Linked DNA regions of Homo sapiens. The protein of the gene in region 6 purifies or fractionates together with the protein of the main gene of each other region. This does not show direct contact. Each region holds a gene or a part of one and is shown on either strand. Other genes may lie near its edges.

Region 1 (2,807 bases), on a different chromosome or scaffold from region 6:
ACATCTCTGAACTAGTATAATTAGCAGCACATATTTTCTTACTCGTACATAAAAAATTCATGGTATTTTTTTCTTTTTTATTGAGACAGGGTCTCACTCTATCACCCAGGCTGGAGTGAAGTGATGCCATCTCAACTCACTGCAACCTCCACCTGCCGACCTCAAGTGATCCTCCTACCTCAGCCTCCCAAGTAGCCAGGACTATAGGTGTGCACCACTGTGCCTGGCTAAGTTTTGTAATTCTTTCTTTCTTTCTTTATTGGAGACGGAGTCCTGCACTGTCACCGGGGCTGGAATGCAGTGGCACGATCTTGGCTCACTGCAACCTCGGCCTCCCGGGTTCAGGCGATTCTCCTGCCTCAGCCTCCCAAGTAGCTGGGATTACAGGCACCCACCACCACGCCCAGCTAATTTTTTGTATTTTTAGTAGAGACGGGGTTTCACCATGTTGGTCAGGCTGGTCTCGAACTCCTGATCTCAGATGATCCACCCTCCTCGACCTCCCAAAGTGCTGGGATTACAGGCGTGGGCCACTGCGCCTGGCCAAGTTTTGTATTTCTTGTAGAGATGGGGTTTCGCCATGTTGCCCACCCAGATCTTGAACTCCTGGGCTCAAGCGAGCTACCTGCCTCAGCCTCCCAAAGTGCTAGGATTACAAACATGAGCTGCCACGCCTGGCCGCATCTTTCAATCAATGGTATTAATCCTGTACAGATGAGAAGACTGATGCTCAGGGTGGTAGAACTGGGATTGGAACCTGGATGAGACAGACTACCAAAAATGGCTGCAGATTCCTCCCCTCCCTGTACACACACACCTCTGCTATGTGGCTTTGGCACTTCTCCTGGCAAGAGCTCGACTTTTTCAATCTCCATTGGCCTCAATCTGGACTGGCTTTACAACTTGCTTTAACCAACAGAAGGTGGCAAAAGCAATGTTGTAGGAGTTCTGGGTGAGTCTAGGCCTCGGGGGACCTTGCATCTTCCACCTCTACCTGCTTGGGGGTGCCCTGGGGCTAGTCTAGCCTTCCAAAGGGTGAGAGGCCACGTGGAGCAGAGATGAGCCATCCCAGGTGAGGGCCCAGACCGGCGCCGTCCAATATGACCTCATGTGGCTATTTACATTTAAATTATTAAACAAGGCCAGGCATGGTGGCTCACGCCTGTAATCCCGGCACTTTGGGAGGCCAGGGTGGGCGGATCACCTGAGGTCAGGAGTTCGAGACCAGCCTGGCCAACATGGCAAAACCCCATGTCTAATAAAAAAAATACAAAAATTAGCCAGGTGTGGTGGCACGTGCCTGTAATCCCAGCTACTGGGGACGCTGAGACAGGAGAATCACTTGAACCCAGGAGGCAAAGGTTGCAGTGAGCTGAGATTGCACCACTGCACTCCGGCCTGGGCGATAGAGCAAGACTCCATCTCAAATAAATAAATAAATTTAAGTTAATTAAACAAAATTTAATCCCAAAGTGTTGGGATTACAGGCGTGAGCCACGGCGTCCAGCCAGCAGCCACCTTTCAAGTGCTCAGTAGCTCTGCCAGGCTAGTGGCTACTGTGTTGGACAGCAGAAACCTAGAACATTTCCATCGCTGCAGAAAGTTCTGTTGGACAGTGCTGCAGAGGTAAGCAGCCGAGAGCCAGACACGTGGGTGAGGCCATCTAACTGCCTCTTGCCCCAGCTAAGTTACTAAGTGATGACCCCAAAGCAAGGTCAATAGAAGAACTGCTCAGCTGCACTTAACCCCTAAATTGCTTACCCACAGAATTATGCATCAATAAACTGGTTGTTTCGAGCCATTTTGGGGCAAGTAAGTTTGGGGGTGGTTTGTTCTGCAGCAAAGCCCATCTGAAATACAAGGTCTGAGAGCCTCCCTGCCTTTCCTGGACAGAAGTATGGTGCTGCTCAATCCTCCGGAAGCTCATGGTCTTGGCCATTAGCCTGGCCACAGTGTCTCCAACCTTCAGAACCACACTGAAGTCCTAAACCCTCCCCGATGCTTTAGGCACTCCAGGTACCCACTCTCTGGCAGAAGCCACATTGGCTAGGGAGTGCCCACCATCAAGGCAGGACTGATATGACGACAACGTGGGAGGTGGCCAGGGAAATGTGCTCCAAAGGGTGAGCAGCCAGGGAGGGCCCAGAAGAGGCACCAAGGGCTGAGGAAAGCAGGGGCAGGTATGGGCATGAGCCTCAGCATTTCCTGCCCACCAGGGAACTCTTGAGAGCCACCAATGGGCCAACAGATAGAAAGATGGTGCTGCCTTGTGGGCGACTGCGGGCCCGCTGCCCACCTCCCACCTGGACAACTGCAACAGCCCCTCCCTCGTCTCCCAGCTCCCTCAGGGCTGCCTGCAATCCTCTCCCACTCCGTACACAGCAGCCAGAGAGCTTTGTAGAGCATGAGTCTGACCAGGTTCCCACCTGCTAAGATGCTTTTTTTTTGAGACAGAGTCTCACTCTGTCGCCCAGGCTGGAGTGTAGTGGCATGATCTCAGCTCACTGCAACCTGTGGCTCCTGGGTCTCCTGGGTTCAAGCAATTCTCCTGTCTCAGCCTCCCGAGTCGCTGGATTACAGGTATGTACCACCACGCCCGGCTAATTTTTTTTTTTTTTTTTTTTTGAGACAGAGTCTCACTCTGTCTCCCAGGCTGGAGTGCAGTGGCACGGTCTCGGTTTACTGCAACCTCCACCTCCCAGGTTCAAGTGCTTCTCATGCCTCAGCCTCCCAAGTAGCTGGGATTACAGGCGCCCACCACCATGCCTGGCTAATTTTTTTTTTTTTTTTTTTGAGACGGAGTCTCA
Region 2 (3,839 bases), on a different chromosome or scaffold from region 6:
TACAGCCAGGTGTGGTGGCTCATGCCTGTAATCCCAGCACTTTGGGAGGCTGAGGACGGTGGATCACATGAGGTCAGAAGTTTGAGACCAGCCTGGCCAACATGGAGAAACCCCATCCCTACTAAAAATACAAAAATTAGCTGGGGGTGGTGGCACGCCCCTGTAATCCCAGCTATTTGGGAGGTTGAGGCAGGAGAATCCCTTGAACCTGGGAGGTGGAGGTTACAGTGAGCTGAGATAGAGCCACTGAACTCCAGCCTGGGTGACAGAGCGAGATTGTCTTAAAAAAAGAAAAGAAAAAGAGTGAAGAAAATCCGCTATCTATGCATTAATCTGTGGGCTCATTTCCTTGCAGCCTTGTGATTGCACGAGTGTTGTCTGATATCATTTGAGCAAGTTGTCAACTCTAAGGTTCTGCAACCTGTAAATGCAGTGCAGCTCCTGGGGAGGGCGTCTGTCCCCCTGGCTGGAGGCTCTCAAACAGAATGGAGACCCTCACTGTCAGACCTATTGGGAGGACTCAGGCGGTGGATGGGGGTTCAGACTAGATCATGTCCAAGGTCCTTAAAAACCACAAGGTGTATAAGATGCAGCCAAAATGATTTAAGGCAAAACCCCACAAACAAGATGGACAAAAACCCTCAAGGTGAAAAAGAAAAAAAAAAAAAAAAAAAAAAAGCTTGAACAGGTAATTAGGAAATTAAACAGCTAAATAATGTGGTTATTTATTAAAGATACATTAATAATTCTTGTAATTGATGCAGGTTTTCTTTTTTCTACAGACTACTATTATTTTATTCTTGTCTCTCTGGAAAATGAAAAATCCATTAGTTTTTCTCTTTTGCTTTTACCCAGAAATTAAAGGTTGGTAAGTGGTAATTAGCGTAGCTCCTGTCAAAGCCAGTTGCCTCATGAGGACCGACATTTGACTTAAGCTGAAATAATGGAATATGGCTAATGTAAAGTTCATTAGTCCCAGCTGCTTTCTTTGACATTCTTTTCTTCTACCACAAGAACGGGCATGCCCTGCCCTCTCTCACTCCTATTTTTAGACGTATTGCTGCGCTCCTATGTGTCTATTCTACAAGGCTGGAGGCACAGTGGTTATAGGGAAGGTAAATGGTAATGGGACAATATGTCTGTGACCACGTTCATTACACATCTGGGATAGAGCTCTGACTCTTTGATAGAGGACTCCAGCACCCCATCTGTCTGCCCCTGAGAAACGAAAGAGAACCACTCTCCACTGTCTACTATATGTTAGGTACTAGGATTTTTCTCATTATAGCACTTCATTCCTTTCTTGGGGGGGACTGGATTATTTATTTTGAGACAGGGCCTCACTCTGCCACCCAGGATGGAGTGCAGTGGCACGATCACAGCTCATTGTAGCCTCGAACTCCTGGGCTCAAGTGATCCTTCTGCCTTAGCCTCCCGAGTATCTAGGATTACAGGCATGTACCACTACACCCGGCTAATTTTTATTTTTTACATTTTTGTAGAGATGGGGTCTTGCTATGTTCCCCAGGTCGGTCTGTCGGTCATGTGGTACTTCATTTAGGCCAGGCGTGGTGGCTCACCACCTATACTCCCAGCACTTTGGGAGGCCAAGGCAGGTGGATCACTTGAGGTCAGGAGTTTGAGACCAGTCTAGCCAACATGGTGAAACCCTGTGTCTACTAAAAATACCAAAAAAAACTTAGCCGGGTGTGGTGGCGGGCACCTGTAATCCCAGCTACTCTGGAGGCTGAGGCAAGAGAATCGCCTGAACCTGGGAGATGGAGGTTGCAGTGAGCAGAGATTGTGCCACTACACTCCAGCCTGGGCAACAGAGCAAAGCCTCAAACAAAACGAAAACGAAACAAAACAAATATAGTACTTCATTTAACCCTTTCAAGCTTGGAGCCTTAGACTAACTGAGAGGTTAGACTCAAGCCGGTTTGTCTCACTCCCAAATCCACAGGACATTTTCCATTATCCACCCAGTTCAGCCGCTTGGTGGGCTTGCTTCAAGTACAGAATATTAACACTAACGCCCAGACGAGTCAACGAACGCTCTGTGTGTCTAACAGAAATAAAATATTCTGGCTGGGTGTGGTGGCTCATGCCTGTAATCCCAAAATTCTGGGAAGCTGATGTGGGAGGATTGCTTGAGGCCTGGAGTTTGAGACCAGCCTGGGTAACATGGTGAGTTTTAATGTACCCTGGATTTCCTAGGAATGTAGCTACTCTGTAAATCAAGGACAGACACGTTTACTGTTCTGGGAAATCCCATTTCCAAGGGCAACGCTGCTGACGGTGTTTGAGCTGACAATCCCCGTGCCCCATGTGCCAATCAGCCTCTGTCGGATGCACAGCGATTCCGTGTGTAAGTGCAAGCATCTGACAGTGAAACACACACCACTTTGTTGGAAATTATTTTCCTTTTTGCCCTGAAACAGTACATCTGGGGCATTATATTAATGCTTCTGTATGAGTGTAGGTAGCTTATCAGCGGTGGCTTCTATTAAAGGATAATTAAGGAGGCATTACAAAATAAGCTATAAAAAAGGAAATGTTGGGGTGAGAGCCAATGGAGGGCATTAGTAAAAGGATGCTGAGTAGAAGATCTAAGCCCTTCTTGAATCACAGGAAAAGGAAACAGTTGTTTTTGTTCTATTTAATTGTTTTCTGTACCCCCATCTTTACCCTAGGACTTATTGTGATTTTCTTTTTTTTTTTTTTTTAAAGACAGAGTCTCATTCTGTCACCCAGGCTGGAGCCCAGTGGCAGGATCTCAGCTCAGTGCAATCTCCACCTCCTGGGTTCAAGCGATTCTCATGTCTCAGCCTCCTGAGTAGCTGGGATTACAGGTGCCCACCATCACGCCTGGCTAATTTTTGTATTTTTAGTAGACTGGGTTTTGTCACGTTGGCCAGGCTGGTCTCAAACTCCTGACCTCAGGTGATCCATCTGCCTTGGCCTCCCAAAGTGCTGGGACTGCAGGTGTGAGCCACTGCGCCCGGCCTATTGTGACATATTGTGATATTTCTTTCTTTTTTGTGTGACAGTGTCTCACTCTGTTGCAGGCTGGAGTACAGTGGCACAATTTCGGCTCACCTCCACCTCCACTTCCTGGGTTCAAGCAATTCTCATGCCTCAGCCTCCCAAGTAACTGGGACTACAGGCGTGTACCACTACACCCGGCTAATTTTTTATAATTTCAGTAGAGACGGGGTTTCACCATGTTGGCTAGGCTGGTCTCGAACTCCTGACCTCAGGTGATCCGCCCACCTTGGCCTCCCAAAATGCTGGGATTACAGGTGTGAGCCACTGCGCCCGGCCTATTGTGATATTTCTTTACTTAATAACTAGCAGATGAATCTCTTAACAGTATTCTGTTTTCCTCTAAGCATGCATAAAAAGTGGTCAAATAAGTCCATGATGACTCATCACCTTTTCCCTGCAAGGAGTGTACTGTAGATTACCAAACCTGCAGAAGCCGTCTGTGTGGAGACAGGAGGAGGACAAACCAGGCTTGCTCTGCTTCACACCCAGAGACCTGGAGCCACAGCATGTGGAAATTGCTTTCATGACCTTTTATACCCCCTGCTGATAAAGCAATTAGAAAACTGAAGAGTTTCACGGTGGTGAGATAGAATTTCACAATACTGAGTGAGATATTAGCAATGGACTCTCCGTATGTCCCTATGGTCTACAAGCTTAATATGTATCTTTAAACAAACACATAAAAAAATTCATTAACTGGAGAAACAAGATTGTGGCCATAGTCAACACTCTATAATGTCACCATCTTCACCACTATCTCTGCTTAAAATTCTGCCGTACTATCTTCAGAA
Region 3 (4,085 bases), on a different chromosome or scaffold from region 6:
AGCAGGATGTGGCCTTGTCTGTATGTGTAGATTGGGGTTTGGATAATTAGGAATTCCGAGAGTGATGTCAACACTTAGTTCTAGAACAGATAACTTTGCAGTAGTATTTGAAATTGTTTAGACTCAAGAGACAGGAATTGCAGGAACGGTAAACTGTTGCAGATACAAAATCAAAGTCTGAACTAACAGTTAATAATTGTAGAGAATGGTTACCAGGAGACTGCAAATTTGAGGAATTTGTTCATTTATTCATTCATTCATTGACCAAGTTTTTTGAGCCTCTATTTTATCTGATAGTTTTAATTTATATTAAGGATGAGTTTTCATCTAGTTAAGATACTTGGACATCCAAAGAATCAGCTGAAATTCATATAAATAAAAACAAAGTTAATGTAGCTTTCCCTGCATTGATTATCAAACATTTATTAATTGCCTCCCACGCAGCAGTTCATGCTAGGGGTTATGGGAAATAAAAACTCGACTTGATCCTCTTTCTTAGAAGACTTTGCACATTAATGGAGGCAACCTCAAATAATTTCTCAGTTAAAATAAACTAAGTAAATATTTAATATTTAACAAAATATTAAAAGAATGACACATGCTTCATCTGTCTGAGATTTGGTGGAATGGGAAGAGGTATGCTCCCATTTAAAAATATAATGTTTGCCAAAGTTAATATATGAATTAGCCCTCAAATATAACCCTTTGATTCTAGAAATATTGTTAAATTTTGCTATAAAGTATTTTTGCCTATGTCACAAAAGTGCATGGAATTTTTTTTCTGTTCTTGATAATTTCTTACTTTGCGCAGGGCCCCAAGCATGAGTAAAGTTTATTGTGCTTCTGAAGAAACACACCCATCTTTTGTCTTTATGTAGCTTATTCATGTTCACAGCCATATAGCAGAGGTAATATCGTCTCTTGAGCCAGGATAAAATGCAGCCCACTAGTGCCATATCTTCCCTCTTATCATTCTTAGTGTTCTGATTCCCTATAGTTTAGAAGTTTTTTAAAACTTGTGTTCTTCTTTTTATGTGAGCTTTAAATTAAAGCTTATTCATTTTTGAAGACATTTATGACTGCTTCTAAATTTTTATTTTAAGACAAATAGCTACCACTTTTGCTCGCCTGTGCCAACAAGTTGATATTACTCAAAAACAGCTGGAAGAAGAAATTGCTAGATTACCCAAAGAAATAGATCAGTTGGAGAAAATACAAAACAATTCAAAGCTCTTAAGGTATTTAAACCTTTCTTCTCAATAATTTGAACATTTACTGGTCTCATTACAAAATATGTAAAATTATTAATGAATTTGTATTCATTCCTAATAGCTTTTTGTGTTGGTTTAAATGAAAATCTTCCATATTTAATTCCATGTGGTTTGCAGTTTCACCGAAGGTTTAAATGAAAATCTTCCATATTTAATTCCATGTGGTTTGCAGTTTCACTGAAGGCTAATTGCAACAAGAAAACAAATCTGAATTGAAAGGGACTTTATAGATCGAAATTTACTCTTCATTAGGCTATATTATTCCCTTTTCAGAACAGAAGTTGTATAATTAAAAGTGAATTTTTAGTTGTGTATGTCCAAGACCCATAACTTCTGTTTTCATGGGGGACTATTGATTATGTATACTTAAATCATAAAAGTAAGATGTCCTGATAAAATGTGGATTTCTGGTTTGATATGATTCATTATATATTATTTAGGGTCTAATAAAATTTGCTTTTGGGGACAAGACTGAAAGTGTCACCATTCGGTCTGTAGTTGGAAATTCTTACTCAGTGCTTAAGAACTTAACTTTCAGCTTTCTTACTTTTGCTTACCCATTAGCTGGCTTGTCAGAATGTCTTGGAAGAACCATTAAACCTCATTTAGTCCCTGCTGTTACTTCTAGGACACATGCTACACAAAATTGCCTGTGTAAGAACAGCTTAGTAGTCAATGTTTACAAATTGGAGGGACTGTCTTTGTGACCTGGATTTTGGGGCATGTACTTAAAACATCCATAGTAGTGATTATCCATCCATAGTGTCTTCATCTGACCAACAACACGTGTTCATTGTACCTTAGTTTCAAAATCTCTGGAAAAGATGACTGCCTATCACTTAGATATTTCCAACCTCACCCACCCATGTGAATTGTATGTATTAGATTGCTCCTATTTTAAGTCAGCTCATCCCATATATACCTTTCAAATGTGGTGAAACTGTGCAGTAGAAATTGGTTTTTTGTCTTAACCTAGGTAAGTTTTTATGGTTTTTTGGTTTTGATTTATTCAGCTTTTGAAAGAGGAATACTAGGTAAGTTTTTAAATAGTATTTCATTTTGTTATAATAAATGATAAAATAGATTATTGGCATTAGTCATGTAGCTTTCTGATTTGGGCAAGACTGGCTTGAATAAGTATGAATATTTTTGGTCTGCTAATCATTTTTCTAATAGAAAAAAGTTAAAAAAAACAAATACCATAATATTTGGAATTTCCATTTTTTACTAGATTAGGCTCAGCCATTTGGATAGAATTTAATGTGCTAACGCTGCAGGAGAGCTACCTCAAGAAATATATACAGTAGAGTTCAGAGCTGATGTATACTTGTATGACCTGAAGCATATGCACACAGGAATAAAGTAAAACAAGACCCTCCCCGTCCATAATGGAGAGAGAGAGCCCACTCAATGAATATGTGCCCTGGCATAGTGTGAGAGTGGGAAACAAATCTGTTTTTCTGTCAGTTTTAGTTCCAGTTTTCCTCTCTTGTGGGCATTTGGCTGCATCAAGGATGAATCTAGTGTTTAAAGGAAATATTTTTGGTATGCCATTGCCGCTGTAACATCTGCTACTTTCCTTGTATGTCCATAAGAAACACTGTGTACTTTGTGCATTATTTAAAGGGAATTTGCAAGCATAATCATGACTCTAGGTAACTTAGGATATCCCGTGTAAGGTATGATTCCACTGTCTGTTATGCTCTTCATTGTTTATTATTAAAGTTTTTGTCTTTTAATAATGGATGGAATGCATTTTTCTCCTTGACCTTTATAGTAATTAGATTGGTGTTTTATTTTTTTAATTAGAAATAAAGCTGTTCAACTTGAAAATGAGCTGGAGAATTTTACTAAGCAGTTTCTACCTTCAAGCAATGAAGAATCCTAACAATAGAGATTGCTTTGGTGACCATGATAGGAGGAAACGAAACTTGTAAGATTGGAACAGTTGTTATTTTTATGAAATTACTTTAAATATGAATTGTACTAACTGTACCTAAATAGCAAAGCCCTGTGTAGATTCTGGTAATGATCTGTCTCAGGGTATGTGTATTTTTGAAGAGTGTTATGTCCTTAGTTTTAATTTTGAGTAAAGAAAAGGCTAAAATCATGAATTAGTTACAAGCAACAGTACCAACTTATGTGACCCCTGAGGGGTGGGGCTGTGAGCTCTTAATTTGTTTTTGATTCTGAAAAACTCTGCTTCCTGGCATCCAGGAGTTAGAGATTGAGCCTTTCATCTTCTTTCTCAAAACTAGTTTTTGATGCTTTCTTTCATGGGAATAGTCACTTTTTTATTTAGTAAATCGCATTGCTGGAACCACCAAGGAGTGTGGAATGTCCTTGAGTGTATTATTTATGCAAGTCACAGTCACGTTGCCATCATGGCAGCTATGTGAAACACTAATAAATGTGTTTTTACTTTTTATTCCCGTTAAAACTGATGTAAAACAGGATAAAGGCTTGTTATAGTCACTTATAAGTATCTGGGTCTAAGTAATTTCCTTAGATGTTTCTAAAGAAACATTTTCAGCTTTGCTCCCATTATGATTCCAATAAGGAACGCTTTCCTAGTGCAATTTTAGGAGTAAAGTTTGAAGAGATAAAAATAGCCAAAGATAGGAGACGTCTGAATTTTGAATGATAAACAGTGATGTTTTAAAAAAGCTGTTGTTCTTCAGGAGGCATTTGCCTAGGATATTGCTGGATTATACCCCATTGGAGGCTTTTAATTTTATTTGTATGAATTTTCCAGGATTTCATTAAAAATTATTATTGTATTTTTTACCTTAATGAAAGATTTTGGGTTCAAAT
Region 4 (4,085 bases), on a different chromosome or scaffold from region 6:
GCACTCCAGCCTAGGTGACAGAATGAAACTCCATTTCAAAAAAAAAACAAAAAAAAAAACCATTGCTTGAAAAATGCTCATAGCCTCATTGCTTTCCTTTCTCTGAGAACTTGAAGGAACTTTGTTTTCCCAGAGGAAAGCTGAGCAACTCAGCGATCATGTGTGCTGTCTGGAGGCTGGAGATAAAGCTGTGTGTGGCATGGGACATGACAACGATGGAGGGGTTAACATGAGAGCCAGTGGGCTTTCAAAGGCCACGAGTGACAGCCTCTGGATTCCAAAGCAGCTCATTCTGACTTCGGGAGCACTCAGGAGGGATCAGGACCCATGTCTAGCTTACTTACCTCTTTGCAGCATCAGGAGACTTAGCTACAATGACTGCATTTCTGTAATTTGGAATCTAGATTTGAAGGAAAAATAGAAAATACTGAAAAGTTATCAGAAAATAACACCTGGATGCTGGTATTCAAGTTTTCCCTCTTATAATGATCCAAACTAGTCATCAAATATGCTAGAATTTTAGTCACAAGTTTTAGATTTTTCAATATTTATCAATTAACATCACTGGAAAAAGCACTCCTACGTCAAGAATTTTTTAAAAATAATTCTTAAAACATTCATTTTAGAAAACATAAGCAAATTGCTAAAGATACGTAGAAAAAAAATCTGTTTTTAGTGTCTTTTAAAGCTATGATCGTCCACGACTAAAGCTGACCCTGTCTGCTGCCTCAGGCATTGTGACTTAAGGGAGAGCTCATTTGATGTGCCTTCCAGTAACGAAATCTGATACCAGAGAAAAACTAAATAAGATCTCTTTTGAGGACAATGGGGTGTTTGCTGGTGGTTCCTCACTTCTTCCTGGATATACTGAAGCAGGAAAGGTGAGGCTCTAAGGTTGTCCACAGGAAAGCTGAAAAAGCCTTGTATTTCCTTTTGATGAAGATCCATAGTGATAATGTGAGTTAAACCTGAAATTTTAAAACAAAAAATTACAAAGTTCACCCCTACAGGTAAATGGCTACAGTGGACCTAAACTAGATGCTCAACTCCTGCTTCCTACCAGCAGACTGAAGACGGGGTACTGTGATTAAGCACTGCAGTCACAGGCTTGATTGTTAACCTTAATAAAGCCTTAATGTAGAGAAGGCTACAACCTTCCACATGGACAAAGAACTAAAGCTAAGAAAGTGGGAATTATTGACTTTTGGCTTGGTCCAGAAAATTGAGAAAAGAATAATGTGGCAGAAGCAAAAATATGAATATGGAATTAATACCGAAGAGATGGAAAAAACAGTAAGGCCTTGATTACAGAATCTTAAAAGAAAGGATAAAGAACTGTAGCGAAGGCAAAAAGTAGCAAGAACACAAACGCAAAGTAATATACATATTAGAAGAAAAGAAACTCATATAACACAAAGATATTGAAGCTTAGAATAATTTCTGTATGTAACAAAGAATGTTTCAAGTATTCTTATAGAAAAACAATGAAGAGATACTCTTATAATCAAGAGTACTGAAGAGGAAAAGGTACATATATATAAACACATTGCAAATGGTCAAAGGTCACAGCAAAACTTCCAGGGTGTAGAACCAGTATTACTTGTTCTTTCCAGAAACACTATAGTTTTTTGGAGAGGATGAAATTCACATACAGTTGACCATCTGGATCTATGGGTTCCACGTGTGGATTCAACGAAACACAGACTGAAAAGGTAGTTAGGCCTACAATGGTTGTGTCTGTACTGAGCAGGTATGAAACTTTTTTCTCATCATTATTCCCTAAACAAGACAGCATAACAACAATTTATATAGTGTTTATATGGTATTAGGTATTTATAAATAATCTACAGATGACTGTGTTGGTTATATGCAAATACTATGGCATTTTATATGGAAGACTTGAGTATCTTTGGGTTTTTGTATCTGCTGAGGAGCCGGGGAAGCGGGAGATGGGTTCCTGGAACCAATCCTATAAGGACATTGAGGGAGGACCATACATTTCTTTCCGAGGACCCAAATATACGTTAAAGTTTTAGAACAGACATCAGATGAATAGAAACCCAATTGTAAAATATTACATTGATTTACAGGCCAGAAAGCGTGCCCCCGCCACACAAGGAGAATAAAGCAATGAAAATGAGCCACTATGTAGAAAGGCAAGGGTGGGGGAGAGGGAGTAAAAGAAAATCCAGCTTGAATACTATGAACAAAAATGGAATTTAGCTAACAAAGCAGATATAGAAATCTAGACCTGAAGATCAAAAGATCACATAAGAATGCCAAGACTGCCAGCTAAGAATTTAGCGATGACAAGATGAAATAGAAAATATGTGACAGATGACAGAGAAGAGAAGACACTAAAGCAATGGTATTCTAAAGTAGGACAAAGCGAATAAGGGAAAAAAAAGAATTTCTAACCGAGCTCACATATCCTTAGCCAAAACTGTTCAAAAGGAAACAAACACTCAGATCCCAGATTGGATATCTGAGGTATGAGCTAAGTCCAACTAGGAAAGAGCCCTAAAGGATCATGCTGGAACCCCAGGGCCCCCGCGCACACTCACCTGCTTTCGCCAGCATGGATGCTAGCAGCTTGCACACAATGGAACCCCTCTTCCTCATCTTGCTCTGCTTGCTGTAGGGGAAGTAGGGGATGACCCCAATAATGTTCCTGGCACAGGCAGTCTTCAGTGCGTAAGCCATGATGAGCAACTCCATCACAGCTGTATTCACATCTCTGAAACAGTCAAAGTTTGTATTTGGGGATTAATTCCATGTATCAACCCTAGAAAAGATCTTGACTTTATCAACTTAACATGGGCTGCCCAGATGGGTGTTGTGGGAATTTTACCATCACACTAGCTTACAATGGCACCTCATGAAGGCAGGGGAAGCTTTCTGACTTTTTGTAGCTGAGTAAGCCCTAGCTTTCATCTGAGGTTACTCCTATTCACAGCACAGTTAACCCACCCTCACATTTGCCTGGGTCTCCTGTGTCATACCCCGTTACTGCAGTGACATCTGAAGCAACTGCTGGTGACCAGAGTTACCCAACACCTGCTGGCAGCCTCCCAGGGATTTGGGCTTAGGCCAGCTTGAATGCCAAGGGAAACCCAACTGCCCTTCCATTTAGCTGCCATTAACAGAAAGATTTGGTCTCTTTCCATTGAGTGTGGGGAGGTCTTGGAATATAATTTTTTTTTTTTTTTTTTGAGACGGAGTCTCGCTGTCGCCCAGGTTGGAGTGCAGTGGCGCGATCTCAGCTCACTGCAGGCTCCGCCCCCCGAGGTTCACGCCATTCTCCTGCCTCAGCCTCCCGAGTAGCTGGGACTACAGGCGCCCGCCACCTCGCCCGGCTAATTTTTTGTATTTTTAGTAGAGACGGGGTTTCACCATGTTAGCCAGGATGGTCTTCATCTCCTGACCTTTTGAGATGAAGTCTCACTCTGTCGCCCAGGCTGGACTGCAGTGGTGTGATCTCAGTTCACTGCAACCTCCGCCTCCCAGGTTCAGGCAATTCTCCTGGCTCATCCTCCCGAGTAACTGGGATTATAGGCGTGCACCACCACACGTGGCTAATTTTGTATTTTTAGTAGAAACGGGGTTTCTCCATGTTGGTCAGGCTGGTCTCGAACTCCCGACCTTAGGTGATCCGCCCACCTCGGCCTCCCAAAGTGCTGGGATTACAGGCATGACCCACTATACCCAGCTGGAACTTAATTTTCGAAAACCTCCCTGGAGGCTGGACGCAGCCCAGCCAATATGGTGAAACCTTGTCTCTACTAAAAATACAAAAATTAGCCAGGTGTGGTGGCACGTGCCTGTAGTCCCAGCTACTGGGGAGGCTGAGGCAGGAGAATCTCTTGAACCTGGGAGGCAGAGGTTGCAGTGAGCCGAGATCATGCCACTGCACTCCAGCCTGGGCAACAGAGTGAGGCTCTGTCTCAAAAAACAAAACAAAACAAAACAAACAAAAAAAAACCTCCCTGGACCTTTCTTTCCCTGACATATAAATTCCTGACAAAGATTACCCAGAGAGACAAAAAATGAAATATGAATCTGGAAGATATTAGAAGGAAAGGCAA
Region 5 (4,085 bases), on a different chromosome or scaffold from region 6:
AAACACTTAAAAAATGATTAAGATGGTAAAGTTTATGTTATGTGTATTTTTTTTTTTTCAGATGGTGTTTCACTGTCACCCAGGCTGGAGTGCAGTGGTGTGACCTTGGCTCACTGCAACCTCGGCCTCCCACGTTCAAGCGATTCTCCTACCTCAGCCTCCCGAGTAGCTGGGACTACAGGCATCTGCCACCACGCCTGGCTAATTTTTGTATTTTTAATAGAGATGGGGTTTCACCATGTTGTCCAGTCTGGTCTTGAACTCCTGACCTCAAATGATCTGCCAGCCTCGGCCTCCCAAAGTGCTGGGATTACAGGCATGAGCCACCGCACCCAGCCATTATGTGTATTTTACCACAATTTTTAAAATGGGAAAAAGAAAAAAGCAAAAGGTCGAGAATATTCTTTAAAGACGAGCTCAAATTGGGGACTTACCCTATAAAAAATCAAGACAGTATAAAGATTTAGTAGCTAATACCACGTTGTATGGTACAAAGATAGTCACACAGACCACGGGAACAGAATAAAACCCAGAAACAGACAACCCAGATATCTATGAAGAATAGAATGTCTATCATATATTGGAATGTCTTGCCACGTGAAAATGAGTGGACTATAGCCACATGCATCAACATAGATGAGTCTTGGCCGGGCGCGGTGGCTCATGCCTGTAATCCCAGCACTTTGGGAGGCCGAGGCGGGTGGATCACAAGGTCAGGAGATCGAGACCATCCTGGCTAACATGGTGAAACCCCGTCTCTACTAAAAAATAGAAAAAATTAGCTGAGCGTGGTGGCGGGCGCCTGTAGTCCCAGCTACTCGGGAGGCTGAGGCAGGAGAATGGCATGAACCCGGGAGGCGGAGCTTGCAGTGAGCCAAGATCGTGCCACTGCACTCCAGCCTGGACGACAGAGCGAGACTCTGTCTCAAAAAAAAAAAAAACAAGACCAAAAAACATAGATGAGTCTCTGGCCCGTAACTCTGAGTAAGAAGTAGTCACAGAATGATACATATAGAATGATTTCAGAAAGTTTTAAAACAGGCAAAATGAAACAATATACTGTTCAGGAATACATACACAAGCAGTAATTCATAAAGAAAAGCCATGGGCCAGGCACAGTGGCTCATGCCTATAATCCCAGCACTCTGGGAGGCTGACGCAAGAGGATCACTTGAGCCCAAGAGTTTGAGCAAGCTTGGCCAACACAGTGAGACCCCGTCTCTACAAAAAAATAAAATTAGCCAGTGTGGTAGTACACACACCTGTGATCCCAGCTACTTGAGAGGCTGAAGTGGGAGGATTGCTTGAGCCCAGAAGTTCAAGGCTGCAGTGAGCCATGATTGCACCACTGCACTCCAGCCCGGGTGACGGAGCGAGACCCCGTCTCGATAAAAAAGAAAAGCCATGGAATTATTAACACATGATAGTAGTTATTTATAGGGGTCCCACGTTTGTAGTGCTCTATTTCTTAACTTGGGTTATATAAACTCAAATGTTTATTTGGCAGTATTCTTTAGACTGCGTTTGAACATGTGTCTGTATTTTAAAGAAATGATTTATGATATAGTTACACAAAATACTGTACCTGTCTAGTCACAAAGACTGGTTTGGGCACTTTACTTGTTCCAGAACTGGAGCAGGATTAAACTGGTCGAGGTCAATCTTTTCTATTTGCCTTGCATTTAGTGGGGTTAGATTTCAGATAACACATTTCTATAACTTTACATATATTTTATTAACTTTTTTCTCTCTTTTGGGTCTTTCTAATAGCTTCTTGGAAGAAATTTTATTTTGTTTATCATCTTTGGCACCATGGAAGAAATGCAGAACAAAGCTGTGGTTTTCTTTGTGTTTTATTTGTGGAGTGCAATTGAAATTTTCAGGTGGGTAGAAATGCCAGGATGGTGTTTGAATGCTGCTCCCTGTTTGCAGCAGCTCTGTTCTTGAGGGAGTTGTTATCTTAGCCAGAGTCTCATTTGGTTTGGGACTAAGATTACATATGTGGAGAATTCTGGTTGCACCTATGTGCTCTGCAAAGTTGAGACAGATTTTTTTAAAGCCGTCATTGGATCATAATACCAGACTGGATACTAGGGAGCAGAAGAGGAGAACCAGAGAAAGGGAAGACTCATCTTACCATGACTTCAGGATCTTGCAGTCTTGGAAAGAGAGGACCCATCCACATGGAAAAATTCTTGAAAGGGCTGAAGAAACAGGAGGTTGAAGGAGCAATCCAGGTTGGATAGAACTAATTTAAGACTAAATTTCTACAAGGGATGATAGAAATGAATCTTATACCACAAGATTATTGAAGTTTGAAATGGCCTCTAACCCAATTTTCCCGTTCTCGGTTGTTAGTAGCATAAATATCTTTTAAGAAATGGATCTAGTTAAAGTAGATGTATTCTTCTTTACCAGACCATACACACTCCATATGTCTTCCCTTTCAGTCAGCTGGAGCAAGGATTTTGCAAATGAACTTCTCAGCTCCAGGTTTGGTGGTATTTTGACAAAGTTGCTAGTTGAGAGAGAGAACAGGCCATAGCAGCCTTAAATTGTGTCTTAACCATGGTCTGTGTCCCATGGCACCCAGTGTACCCTCTAATAGCCTTAATACAAAGGTAAAACAGATTATAGGTCCTATGTTTTTCAAATCAGACACGTAATGTGCTGATGTAACAAGGTTTGAGGGAAGCACATCTCACACAGGAGAGTGAAAATCCAGTTATCACACTTATGAGCTATAAAAGGATCAGATTATGGGTCCTTAATGCAATGTTTACTGTTTGAGAAGGAACATTTATTTTCTCAAGGGATGTCTTTTAAAATAGCATATGTCTGATTCTAGATTAGAGGTCTTCTGTATACTTTAATTTTGGTAACAACTCACTTATCCAGAAATAAAGTATCTAATATCCTTACCCACCGGGAATGTATATCAGCACTAGGAATAAAGCCAAAAAACATCTGAGTATCCAGTCCGTTTACCGAATAAAGAGGGTTCCTTTGAGACCTAAACTTAGTCTGCCATTAAAGAGCGTTCAGATCCTTTGAAAATTTAGGGCGCAGTGTGGCAGGAGTTTATGGGTTGATAGCCAGCGTTATAATTCTGTTCTGAAGAAGCCATGTGTGGCTGAGAAATAGAATTCTTCTATTTAAATGATATTCTAAGGTTGCATTCGGAACCTGAAGTGGCTTTTCACATTGGAATCATTTATTTTCAATAGGTACTCTTTCTACATGCTGACGTGCATTGACATGGATTGGAAGGTGCTCACATGGCTTCGTTACACTCTGTGGATTCCCTTATATCCACTGGGATGTTTGGCGGAAGGTACTCTCAGGGACTCTTAGCTTTCATAGCTTAGCTCCAGGGGGTACCCAGAGGCTGAGAGACCAGTCCTTTCTTCCCCGGCCTTAGTCCGATAAATGGAAATGTTGGATTTTTCAGGGATTTCTTTCCATGGGCTTCCTTCCATAATACTCCTGGTACCCAGACTGTTCGAGAAAAGTAGCTCATTTTGTAACATTGGAAAGCCAGGTGGTTATGTCCTGCATGCTTCCCATTTGTATGATGCTTTTAGTATTCCAAAGGGGGTTCTTACTGATGACTTTATTTTATTCTGACAAACATCTCATACATAAGTCAGCTAGGGATTTTCCTCTCCATTTTATAGAATAGAAGAAGCCCACTACCATGACTTCCTCATCTGTCTCTCTGTTGACAGGTTGGAGGCTGATCTCTTAGAAAAGTAGGGGAAAAAAAGGAGAGGCATGAGCTTTCTGTACAAAGGGAGGAGAAAGCCTTTCCAGCACACCCAGAACTGAAACTTTAGAGTACTAGGACTGGAAGTTCCTGTCATTAAATGTGACTGTTTCATTTGCTTCTAACAAGTTCTTGTTTCTGTTTTCAGCTGTCTCAGTGATTCAGTCCATTCCAATATTCAATGAGACCGGACGATTCAGTTTCACATTGCCATATCCAGTGAAAATCAAAGTTAGATTTTCCTTTTTTCTTCAGATTTATCTTATAATGATATTTTTAGGTAAGTATTGATTCTTTAATACAGACTTTTTCTTGTCAC
Region 6 (4,236 bases):
GGGAAGTGAGGAGCCCCTCTGCCCGGCCAGCCGCCCCGTCCGGGAGGGAGGTGGGGGGGTCAGCCCCCTGCCCAGCCAGCCGCCCTGTCCAGGAGGGAGGTGGGGGGGTCAGCCCTCCGCCCGGCCAGCTGCCCCGTCTGGGAGGTGAGGGGCGCCTCTGCCCGGCCGCCCCTACTGGGAAGTGAGGAGCCCCTTTGCCCGGCCAGCCGCCCAGTCTGGGAGGGAGGTGGGGGGGTCAGCCCCCTGCCCGGCCAGCTGCCCCGTCCGGGAGGTGAGGGGCACCTCTGCCCGGCCGCCCCTACTGGGAAGTGAGGAGCCCCTCTGCCCGGCCAGCTGCCCCGTCTGGGAGGGAGGTGGGGGGGGGTCAGCCCCCCCGCCCGGCCAGCTGCCCCGTCCGGGAGGTGAGGGGCGCCTCTGCCCGGCCGCCCCTACTGGGAAGTGAGGAGCCCCTCTGCCCAGCCACCACCCCGTCTGGGAGGTGTGCCCAACAGCTCATTGAGAACGGGCCATGATGACAATGGCGGTTTTGTGGAATAGAAAAGGGGGAAAGGTGGGGAAAAGATTGAGAAATCGGATGGTTGCTGTGTCTGTGTAGAAAGAAGTAGACATGGGAGACTTTTCATTTTGTTCTGCACTAAGAAAAATTCTTCTGCCTTGGGATCCTGTTGATCTGTGACCTTACCCCCAACCCTGTGCTCTCTGAAACATGTGCTGTGTCCACTCAGGGTTAAATGGATTAAGGGCGGTGCAAGATGTGCTTTGTTAAACAGATGCTTGAAGGCAGCATGCTCGTTAAGAGTCATCACCAATCCCTAATCTCAAGTAATCAGGGACACAAACACTGCGGAAGGCTGCAGGGTCCTCTGCCTAGGAAAACCAGAGACCTTTGTTCACTTGTTTATCTGCTGACCTTCCCTCCACTATTGTCCCATGACCCTGCCAAATCCCCCTCTGTGAGAAACAACCAAGAATTATCAATAAAAAAATAAATTAAAAAAAAAAAAAAAAAAAAAAAAAGAAAATGGTATTAATACCATCAGCTGACATTAATTAAGCACTTAGTTTAGTTTATTTATCTATCTCATTTAATCCTTATAACAGCCCAATAAGCTAGACATCATTATTCCCATTATGAAGATGAGGCAGAAGACCTAAGGAAGGATAAATAATTCGCCAAATGTCACTTAAGCACCTGGTTGGACTGCAATGATTCTAATCTAGATGCTCTTACCCACCATGCTGTTAAACTTGATTGCACTGCATCATACACTTGATAATTCAACAGTTAATGATAATAAAGTCAAATTTACATCTACAAATCATGCAAGCTTAAATTGATACTACAAGTTTATTTCAACTTAATAGCTGGGAAATACTTAGGGGGTGTTATGGGCTGAGTTGTAGTCCCCCCAAAATTCACATGAAGAAATCCTAATCCCAGCACTTCAGAATGTGACTGTATTTGGAGATAGGTTTTGAAAGAGATAATTAAGGAAAAATGAGGTCCTCAGTGTGGGCCCTAATCCAGTATGACTGGTGTCCTCATAAGAAGAAGAAATTTGGGCACAGACAAGTACAGAGGGAAGGCCATTTAAAGACACAGGGAGAAGATGGCCATCTACAAATCAAAGAGAAAGGCCTCAAAGGAAACCAACCCTGCTAACACCTTGATCTTGGACTTTTAGCCTCCAGAACTGTGGGAAAACAAATTTCTTGTTGAAGCCACCCAAGCTGTAGAACTTTGTTATGGCAGCCTAACAAACTAGTACAGTGAGGGAATTTGACAAAATTTCATTGGTTACTGGTACACTGACCTAACATGCTGTGTGGACCAACACAAATGAAACCATAAGACAATACTTCCCAAATATTTTAATTTTGAAATAGATATACTTAATGGCTGATGACCCAGTATCTTTGGTGTCCTCTAACCACATTACCATTCTATAATTTCAAATGAAATCTATACTTTAAAAACAATTAATGTCAAATTTTGTCATAATATCTGACTTTCAGGCCAACTTTTAATGTTAGTACAATTTAAAATAAAAAGTCATTAACATTTTAATGTAATACTGAATAATTCTCTGTGGAATTTATCTTTTACATTTTTTTCCTTTTAAGCAAAAAGAGATTTACAGTTTATAATGGTAAAGACTCTACTACTTCAGAATCAAAGCCAAATCAATATTACTTAATAATTCAGGGAAAATTTAGATAAAATCACTAGACAACGGTAAACTGATATTCTTATCTACTCATAAAATTATTTTTGAATTGCAAACGAACTGCTATGCGTGGCTAATTTAGGAAGAAAAATTTTTTTTTTTTTTTTGAGACTGAGTCTCGCTCTGTCACCAGGCTGGAATGCAGTGGCGTGATCTTGGCTCAATGCAACCTCCACCTCCCAGGTTCAAGCGATTCTCTGGCCTCAGCCTCTTGACTAGCTGGGACTACAGGTGTGTGCCACCACATCCAGCTAATTTTTGTATTTTTAGTAGAGACGGGGTTTCACCATGTTGGCCAGGATGGTCTCAACCTCTTGACCTCGTGATCCACCTGCCTCGGTCTCCCAAAGTGGTGGGATTACAGGCGTGAGCCACTGTGCCCAGCCAGAAAAGCATTTTTAATAGAATTTTGATAGCTCTTAACTGAGATCCTAAATCAAGGATTTAGAAATGAGGTATCATAAAGAATAGTAAGATTTTAAAGCTCTCAAAATTACATATGATACAAATAAAGATTGTAACAGTATTTAATCATTGTTTCAAACTTTATTACTTAATGAAACAGTTTCTATATACTGCTTCCAATTACTTTAATCCTTTTTTCTCATTAAATTTTTTTTGTTGTTCTTCAGTTGAGCTGAGATACTTTTAATTACTTTTTATTAACTGCTTCCAGAAACCGTAACAGGTGCAGGAATAGATTGATGATATCCAAGTAGAGGCTGATGGCAGCTAATACGTACTCTTCAGGTGACAGTTTATGCATCAGTGAGTGTGTGTCATAGATGATGAATCCACAGAAAAGAAGGGCTCCTGCAGCGGCTAAGACCAACTCCATTATCTCACTATAAAAAAAAAACTATAGGGAAGAGATTAAAGAAATATGTTTATATTTGAGAACAGTATTAACAGGACTTAACTTACTTCCTCTAATGATTTACTGCTACATTATACATTTGACAATGGTGTACAACTTTGAATACAAATGTTAAAAGCAGAAAAAGGCAAGGCAAGTCCAAACTTGCCTCTGTTGGATGGAAGGATGAATGAGTGGTTATATTCCATTAAACTAAATTACCCACTTTGAAAAACAGCATTCCACATATAAATTATTTAAAAATATATTTCGTTTTTCACAATTAAATGTGCCACTGGAGCTTGGCAGTTGTAAGCAAGGGCCTCTTTCTATGTAATTTAATTCATTTATTCATTCATCTTTTTTTCAGTCAATAATAAGGACCAACACAAGACCCTGATTTTCTAAAGGGATAATTCTATAATCATTCTATATACAAATGTTCTGGATAATTATAACTAAGTGTCCTATCATAAGAGTATCTCTTATAGCTTTTTGAGGTTATTTATATTGACACAGCCAGAATTATATTTCAAATTAACCATTATAACATAACTTACCTTCAAGAATCCTGACAGGCACAATATCCACAAAAGAGCAAACAGCCTATAAAAATACAATTTTAGTAATTTGCAATATTGTTCCTTACAAAAAAACTTTGTAAACCCATTCAACACTTTCTGAAAAAAACATCCATCTGGATTTTTTGCTGAAGAATAACTAAAATGTAAGAATTTGTAAACATACAATGAATATAATGCCCATCTTGGATCTTTTTTTTAAAGAAATTGAAAGAACAGCTATTTATTCAACATTTGTCTTTATGGTATACAAACCTAGTTAACAGTATAATTTGTGAAGTTTTGGAACATAAAATACAGATAAAAGCAGAAATATCATTACAAGTATTTTAATTCAGAGATCTATAAAAACTTTTAGAAAATATATAAACAAATGAACTAGGATTGCACTTTTAAACCAAGTAATAACAAGTTATTCTGTGAACATGTCTATCGAAGTTCACAATGTACTTTCCATTTTATTCTTATGTATTATGGAACTTAATTGATGGACACATCTGACACTGCTATAATTTTATGAGTTACAATTCAATTGTTATATATAGAGAGTATAAATTATATAAGAAAGGAC

The links.
Region 1: the proteins of TMBIM4 (region 6) and SLC27A4 purify together in Homo sapiens (affinity purification with mass spectrometry; one large-scale study listed by BioGRID and IntAct). This does not show direct contact.
Region 2: the proteins of TMBIM4 (region 6) and DFFA purify together in Homo sapiens (affinity purification with mass spectrometry; one large-scale study listed by BioGRID and IntAct). This does not show direct contact.
Region 3: the proteins of TMBIM4 (region 6) and MFN1 purify together in Homo sapiens (co-immunoprecipitation; one large-scale study listed by IntAct). This does not show direct contact.
Region 4: the proteins of TMBIM4 (region 6) and PRPSAP1 purify together in Homo sapiens (affinity purification with mass spectrometry; one large-scale study listed by BioGRID and IntAct). This does not show direct contact.
Region 5: the proteins of TMBIM4 (region 6) and HACD3 purify together in Homo sapiens (co-immunoprecipitation; one large-scale study listed by IntAct). This does not show direct contact.

The regions. Positions count from the first base shown.
Region 1 is NC_000009.12:128,357,080-128,359,886, reverse strand, and holds part of SLC27A4 (long-chain fatty acid transport protein 4), read right to left. Parts: intron 1-2,807. UniProt on the Homo sapiens protein: Mediates the levels of long-chain fatty acids (LCFA) in the cell by facilitating their transport across cell membranes. Appears to be the principal fatty acid transporter in small intestinal enterocytes.
Region 2 is NC_000001.11:10,455,830-10,459,668, forward strand, and holds the end of DFFA (DNA fragmentation factor subunit alpha), read right to left. Parts: 3' UTR 693-3,839; downstream 1-692. UniProt on the Homo sapiens protein: Inhibitor of the caspase-activated DNase (DFF40).
Region 3 is NC_000003.12:179,388,901-179,392,985, forward strand, and holds part of MFN1 (mitofusin-1), read left to right. Parts: intron 1-1,103; coding exon 1,104-1,238; intron 1,239-3,080; coding exon 3,081-3,159; 3' UTR 3,160-4,085. UniProt on the Homo sapiens protein: Mitochondrial outer membrane GTPase that mediates mitochondrial clustering and fusion. Membrane clustering requires GTPase activity. It may involve a major rearrangement of the coiled coil domains.
Region 4 is NC_000017.11:76,329,699-76,333,783, forward strand, and holds part of PRPSAP1 (phosphoribosyl pyrophosphate synthase-associated protein 1), read right to left. Parts: intron 2,738-4,085; coding exon 2,565-2,737; intron 969-2,564; coding exon 853-968; intron 401-852; coding exon 345-400; intron 1-344. UniProt on the Homo sapiens protein: Seems to play a negative regulatory role in 5-phosphoribose 1-diphosphate synthesis.
Region 5 is NC_000015.10:65,568,321-65,572,405, forward strand, and holds part of HACD3 (very-long-chain (3R)-3-hydroxyacyl-CoA dehydratase 3), read left to right. Parts: intron 1-1,770; coding exon 1,771-1,883; intron 1,884-2,652; exon of another isoform or gene 2,653-2,753; intron 2,754-3,227; coding exon 3,228-3,334; intron 3,335-3,914; coding exon 3,915-4,046; intron 4,047-4,085. UniProt on the Homo sapiens protein: Catalyzes the third of the four reactions of the long-chain fatty acids elongation cycle. This endoplasmic reticulum-bound enzymatic process, allows the addition of two carbons to the chain of long- and very long-chain fatty acids/VLCFAs per cycle.
Region 6 is NC_000012.12:66,135,080-66,139,315, forward strand, and holds the end of TMBIM4 (protein lifeguard 4), read right to left. Parts: intron 3,691-4,236; coding exon 3,645-3,690; intron 3,088-3,644; coding exon 2,881-3,087; 3' UTR 767-2,880; downstream 1-766.